2 linked regions of the Homo sapiens genome follow. Changing the gene in region 1 together with any one later gene gives a genetic interaction. Each region holds a gene or a part of one and is shown in the gene's direction. Other genes may lie near its edges.

Region 1 (3,823 bases):
CCACGTTGGGTTAAATGTGAATGAAGAAACTCAATACATTCAGGAATGAAGGGGAAAGATGACTTAGCCTTCTGGAGAAATTTTATTTTATTTAACAAATAGCAATACTTTGTTAGCCCTTTGCACATATATGACCATCAAAGGGATAATATATTTCAGGGCAGTACAAAAATAACACAATTATACTGTGTAGTCTTTTTCCATTTAAAAAATTCTTCACATAATTTACAATTCTTGAAGTTATTAGGTCTAGTCCAAAATGTTTTAAGCATGAAAATGCATCCTGGATTGTATACATTTCAAAAATGTAGCAGAGAGGCAACTTCCTAATTTCTCTTTTTTATCTAAAGTAATGGCATAGTGGTAGACATAGTAAGTTTTTTCTTTTTAAGATAAAAATAACCCTGATAAATATTAAGGGATTTTGAAAATATGTTGTTTTTTCCGGCAGCAGTGACTTCAAGCCTGTTATCCCAGCATTTTCAGAGGCTGAGGCCGGTGGATTGCTTGAGCCCGGGAGTTCAAGACAAGCCTGGGCAATATGGCAAAACCATGTCTTTACAAAACACAACAAAAATTAGCCAGGCATGGTGGCACATGCCTGCAGTCTCAGCTACTTGGGAGGATTAGGTGGGAGGATCACTTGAGCCCAGGAAGTCAAGGCTGCAGTGAGCCAAGATTGCGCCTCTGCACTCCAGCTTCAGCGCTGGAGGGAGACCCTGTCTCAAAGAAAAAAAAAAAAAAAGAAAGAAAGAAAAAAAGAAAATACCTTGTTTTAAAAATGAAAATTTACAATATTATTATCTAAAATCTCAACCAGAAACCTTTCTGTTTTAGATTACAAACCTAAAAAATCCTTAGTCAAGGTGGTATCAGCTCTAAAATGAATAAAGTTAAGATAAAATTATGATTTATACTTTTATGTTGTAAAATATATAGCTTTATCAGCTATAAAATTTATAGTATAAATTATAAAATCTGTCATTTGAGGATATGTTGGTGAAAAATTATTATTTGTAATTATTAATCCCTAGATTCAACAATTAGGCAGTCAAGCAAAATTTTGTTCCTCAATTGCTTTTCAATGTATAAACAAACCACAACAGTTACAACCTTTTGGAGCAAAGGTGAAGCAGGGAGTGGAAGGAATAACCCAGTTCCTTGTCGTTAAGTGTGTTTCTTGATAGCAATGTAAAAAGTCAACCAGATTAATAAAAATTTTGATTAATATAAGGTCGAATTTTTCTGAGAGGTAACTTTTAATGTTTTTTTTTTTTAACAGACCTGTATTTCTTTCATAAAAGACTTCTTGGCAAAAAATTTGATTATAGTTATTGGAATATCATTTGGACTGGCAGTTATTGAGGTACAGTATAATCTTGTATTATTGACTCTTTTATTCCCTTGCTTGTTCATTAATTTCAAGAAATATTGATGGTGAACAAACAAACAGAAAAAAAAAAACCACAACAACCATAAAAAACGCAGATGCTTTAGAAAAGCACTGGATGCTAAAGGCCCATCATCTCCCTCGATCAGCCTGAGTCTGAGGGGGAGATTCCAGTCTTATGAAGTGAGCAGGGTTGAGATTCTTGCTTCTGAATGACCTCTCTACCGGGAAAAAGATAGAATTAATTTTCACATAGTTCTTAGTGCCAGGTATATTTTTCCCACTGAAAACTAGCACAGGGGTTACAGTTTTCCAAAGTTAGAAGAAAAAGCACCAAACAAAGCAAAATACGACCTTTACAATTTCTTATTTCTCATCTTGATTTTGAAACAGAAAATAAAAACTGAACTCAAGAGTGTGAGGAGCTCTTTCTTTGTTACTTATTACATTCTAGAGAAATCCAAGAAGTTCTAAAAAGTAGAGGTAATTGTCTCTGATTTCCTCAGCTTAAGTACTATTGACTCACTTGGAGAAATTTTCAAGGAAAATTGAGGCTTATGTATTACTTTCATCACTTTAATTATTGATGTTGGAAAAATATCCCACATAGGATTTTTGTCTTGATGAACTTTCTTGGCATGTTTTTTTTTTAAAAAAAAAAAAAACCTGAAAGATACTTTTCACATGGCCTAAAAATCTTTGCCAAGAAAATGAATTAAAACTGCTTCAGAGAAGCATTTTGGAATCATCCCAGATCTTGGGTAATTTTAATATCAAGTAGATCAAATTCACTCACAATCCTATTCCAGGGCATTAGCAAGAATGTGAAGTGTCTCCCTGGTTAATGCCTGTGAGAGCTGGTTAGCTCAGCTGAGTGCCTTGTGCTTCACACTCATGGAATGCTGTGCAAGGTACTCCTTGGGCTTTCTGGTAATTTTCTACCTCTTACTCGTGCCACATCACTGCCAGAAAGAAATTTTAACTGGGAATGAAGCAATTTAGTGTCCTAAGTGGTTATTTAGTTTGCTGGTGGAATTTCCCAGGCAGCTATTAGAGAAAGGTTAGGGACTATTAGCAGCAAATTAAACTGTGGGTTATTACTTTCTTGTAGTCCAGATGAATAGGTATAAATATGAAGCATTCTTTGTTGGTAGGTTATGGCTGTCTTTCTTTAGGTCTGATATATGTTCAGAGTCAAATGGTGCTATGGATTAGGTCTATTTCTCTTGATTCTGCATTTTGTAAGATGTATTTTATTTCTCTGCTTTGTATTCTGGGTTTATGCTAATTTAGAAATAAGGACTAATGGCCATGAAGATGAGTAAGAAATGAATGATTTAAATGAATCAAGAGTGATTTTACATGAATGATTTAAGTGAATGAGAGAGCATGCTTTAAATGAGATATTTAATATAAGAGTTATATTTCATGTTAGACTCAAGTTCTGACAATTGACTATCACTAGCTCAAATCACAGATGCTCCTCAGTTAGCAAAACCAGAAAAAGTAAGGACATACTTGATTGGGGAGGTTGATGAAATCCTTTGTGTCATAGTCAAAGGCATTTTCAAGAATTTAAATACATCTAGTGGAAAATAAGATTACAAAAAGATTAATGTATTTCAGTATTTTATGAAATTGTTATATTCCATGTATTAATTACATGTTTAAATATTTTATTTGTTCTTCTAAAGACATATTCAGAGAAAAATAGCTTAATACAAACATTCTATACAGTAATTTATAGGTATGAAGTTTTTGCGTTACTATCATAAAACAGAACCGTTTTTGAATTCGAGAAGTCAAATTAATTGTGATTTCTAGACTCTCTGCAGATATGGTAAATAGTTGGTTCAAATAATTGTTTGAACTTTTTAAAATTGTTCAGTTCCTCAGTCTATAACCTGCCCTCCCTCTTTTTAAGGGAAACAAATCATTTTATATTCCATCTTCCTTTATTCAAAAAGTAGATTGGAAAAGTCTTCTGACACCCAGTCTATAAATTATGTATCCAAAAACAAAGCATTTTATAGCTCATCTTACAGTCATTAGTACAAGTTTCCTATTGCCCTATGACTTAGGCCTATCTCCCTTCTTTGTTTCCAAAGTTCAAATTCAAAAAAACACAAAGATACAGAAACAGAAAATCTCCTCTAAAAAATACTTTTAAGAAAACAGAAGCAAATGTCTTCCTGCAGAAAATATGTTCAGATTATCTCCACAGAAAAATATCATATAAAAAAAGACCGCCCCATATTTAGACCTTATGTTAGTATGTTTAGGCATAGGTTTTAGTGAGGTGGGCCAATATTTGTTTTCAAAGCTATGTTAAGACTATATACCTAAGGGATTCTTCTCACATTGGATGCTAAAGATTGTGCAGAATACCTTATTCTGCAAGAAAAATTTATCTATAGACATTTTTGGAATTCT
Region 2 (3,569 bases), on another chromosome or scaffold:
ATGTATTATGAATACTTTCAAGCTTCCCTTTGGAATATACAAGACATGCGTTTGGAGTTACCTTTGTTTTTCTATCGTAAATTTAGATTCTGGAATTGGGGTTTGGTGGTGCAATGTGTTGCTCACAAGTGGCCAGAACTCCTATTCCTAAAAGGATTTTGAGATGGAGGAACACATATTTAATTCCCCTTTATGCCTTGGTTCTTGCTCCTCTTTCCACGTTGGATAACAATTTTTTGGTTGTTTTGTTTAAGTTGGTGCTCTGAAGCTTAATCTCAGTACCCTTTACTCTGAATTGTCAAATTTTGATAAAACGTGCCATTTTCTTTGGTAAGAGAAAGCAGGTCTTAATGTCTGCCAGAACACAATTTATATGCCTTATTGGCTTCATTAAACTTTTAGAAAACTTTAGCATTTGTTACTTTTTTCCATTGCGTTTACTTTCAAATGCACCTAATGAATTTGTCACCCAGTCGCAACTTTTCCCTTCTCTGTCCCATTGCTTTCTCCTTTCCCCGACGCACAGAATAAACATGAAGCTCAGCAGTAGAAGCGTAATGATTTCCCTCAGGAAAAACTTCTGACAGCTAGGTTTTTCAAGGGTTTCCCTGTGCTAGCTGAGATGCAAAACAAATCATGGAAGATTGCATACCTGTGTGGTATTTTAAAAACAAGTTGACTTTTTCAGTTTCTTGAACGGTTAAGGGTGGATTTAAAAACTAGACAGTTTAGTTTTGGGGAACAGAAGCTCTCTTCGTCTTAAGCCAGATTCTCTGATTCTTTTAGACGTCATAGCTCCTTAGTTCTGCTCCTGTCGCCCTAACTTGGCATGGGCAAGTTGAAGTTCATCCTTAGACTGCAGCGTTCTGAGCATGGCTGAAGTATTAAAATGTTTAATATTTTTTAGAGCAAAATTGTTGGAAAGCATTTGGCTGAATCTAAAGACCTGCAGTCAGATTCTTCAATGTGGTTTACCCAACTGGAGTAGTGATAAACACCTTAATCATAAAATGAATAAAAACAAAAAAACCATGGGGCTTGTCTGCAGTTTTGTTTTGGTCATCACATCTGAATAACTTTTTGATGCAATCAAATGAAGTTTAGGCTTTTAAAAAAGAATTAGCTTTCTAAATGTTTTTTTCTAAGGGCTACTGGAACTCATTAAACTCGAATAATTGTGGCTTTGGGCCTGAAGATTTCCATTCAACAGTGAAAACTGGCTAACTTCCTTTATAGTGAGAGGGATGGCCAACATCCAACCCAGAGGGCTAGTCAGCCTCAGAGGCCAGTGCAAGACGCCAAGAGATGATTTTGAAATGGGGCCATAAGTTTAGAAAATTATGAACAGAATGATTGAGTTTTTGGCCTGGCTACTACCTCTAGTGGTGACTACGTCAGCAGATTAATCTCATTGCATTTTACTTTATGTAGTATGTTGTAACCTGGTGCTTCATTCATTAGATTGGTGACTGAGGTATTTAGTCATGGTGAGGATGGGAATCTTCAGAGATACATTCTGGATTTGTGGAATAAAGTGACTAGAAAGGTTCTTCCAGAGCAACCCCTTGTTTAAAGTTATAAGTGTTTATGGTACCTGCTACCCCTTCTGGAAAGTTGTCGGCTTTGATGGTTTAGATGACCTTACCCCATAAGGCCAGCTTCTAGCCTCCCTTTGGAATATTTGAGGTGTGTGATGTTTTAGTGGGGGCAGCATTTGAGAGACGAGCAGGCCCGAGCACCCAGGCTGGCTGTCAGACCGTGTGTTGTGCTGTTGGGTTTGATGGGATGAGATATCCAGGGTTTTACTTCCTATAATGGGATCTGCAGGCTCCTTGTGAAGTTCAGTTAGACAGTAGCCTGTGACGTAGCAAGTCAAGTTTTCGATGGCCCCTCATTTTTTTTTTATTTAGTGCTTAAAAAAAAGATTTAAAACAGCAAAAATCAAGCCACACAGCAGCTTATAGTATATACAGGTCTTTTATACATTAGAAGTAATATGGTGAAATCTTTTTTTTTTTTTTTTTTTTTTGTGATGGAGTTTCACTCTCTCACCCAGGCTGGAGTGCAGTGGCACGATCTTGGCTCACCACAACCTCTGCCTCCTGGGTTCAAGCAATTTTCATGCCTCAGCCTCCCGAGTAGCTGGTATTACAGGTGCCTGCCACCACACCTGGCTATTTTTTGTATTTTTGTTAGATACGGGGTTTCAAATATGGTGAAATCTTGTGACAGAATAGTATTCCCTTGTACAGATAAGCCTTGATGCAGGTTACAGATTTTTTATAATTAGTAATGCAGCAGTGGAGTGTTTTCTTTTTCTTGTTTTTTGAGATGGAGTCTCTGTCGCTGGAGTGCGGTGGTGCGATCCCAGCTCACCGCAATCTCTGCCTCCCGGGTTCAAGCGATTCTCCTGCCTATAACTACAGGTGTGCGCCACCACGCCCAGCTAATTTAATTTTGAATTTTTAGTAGAGACGGGATTTCACCATGTTGGCCAGGCCAGTCTTGAATTCCTGACCTTAAGTGATCTGCCCGCCTTGGCCTCCCCAAGTGCTGGGATTACAGGCATGAGACACTGCGCCTGGCCTATGTTTTAAGTTTCTCTATGACAAATTTCTGTAGATGAACTATCTGGGTCAAAAAAATTCATCTATAAAATACTGATGGGTCTTGCCAAAGTACCTTCTGCAAGGTACCAGTTAATACTTCCATCAGAAAGTAAGAGCGCCTGTTCCCTTACATCGTAGCCAGTGTTGGGTATTTATACTTCCTTTGGCAGAAGTGACCTTTCAGTTTTAATCTGTTTTTTACCTGCTCGTATGAAGGAAGACTTTTTGCTTGATATCACGTGGGTTTGAATGCTGACTCTACTACCAGGTCTGGGAACCTAGGTAAGTTTGCCTCTCTGGGCTGTTTTCTCATCTGTGAAATAAATAGAAAACATAGAAAAATAAATTAAAAAATGTGAATGTTAGTGACTTGTGTTCCTTGGAAGTTGGATACATTTACATCTCCATTTATAATTCTCCCATCAGCAGAGCCCTGGAGAACTCTGGAATGTGGCTGATAGCTTATCTTAACATGCCATTGAAAAATTAGCCCTTTTTGGCTAGGCGTGGTGGCTCACGCCTGTAATCCCAGCACTGGGAGGCCAAGGCGGGCAGATCACGAGGTCACAAGAGATTGAGACCATCCTGGCCAACATGGTGAAACCCCATCTCTACTAAAAATACAAAAATTAGCTGGGCGTGGTGGTACGCACCTGTAGTCCCAGCTACTTGGGAGGCTGAGACAGGAGAATCACTTGAATCCGGGAGGTGGAGAGGTTGCGGTGAGCAAAGATTGCACCACTGCACTCCAGCCTGGCGACAGAGCAAGACTCCGTCTAAAAAAAAGAAAAAGAAAAATTAGCCCTTTCTTTTTTCTTTGAGACAGGGTTTTACTCTCTTGCCTAGGCTGGAGTGCTTTGGTGCGATCATAGCTCACTGCAGCCTCGATAGGTAACACACTAAGTGGTGAGTTTTCAGGGAAGGGGCTTGTTCACATGTAAGAGAGATTTTAATTTTTCA

The links.
Region 2: changes in TSPAN8 (region 1) and HAPSTR1 together harm fitness less than expected from each alone (positive genetic interaction), as found in Homo sapiens cells (one large-scale study listed by BioGRID).

Annotation. Positions count from the first base shown.
Region 1 is NC_000012.12:71,126,874-71,130,696, reverse strand, and holds part of TSPAN8 (tetraspanin-8), read left to right. Parts: intron 1-1,282; coding exon 1,283-1,366; intron 1,367-3,823. UniProt on the Homo sapiens protein: Structural component of specialized membrane microdomains known as tetraspanin-enriched microdomains (TERMs), which act as platforms for receptor clustering and signaling.
Region 2 is NC_000016.10:9,118,667-9,122,235, forward strand, and holds the end of HAPSTR1 (HUWE1-associated protein modifying stress responses 1), read left to right. Parts: 3' UTR 1-2,969; downstream 2,970-3,569. UniProt on the Homo sapiens protein: Acts as a central player within a network of stress response pathways promoting cellular adaptability. The E3 ligase HUWE1 assists HAPSTR1 in controlling stress signaling and in turn, HUWE1 feeds back to promote the degradation of HAPSTR1.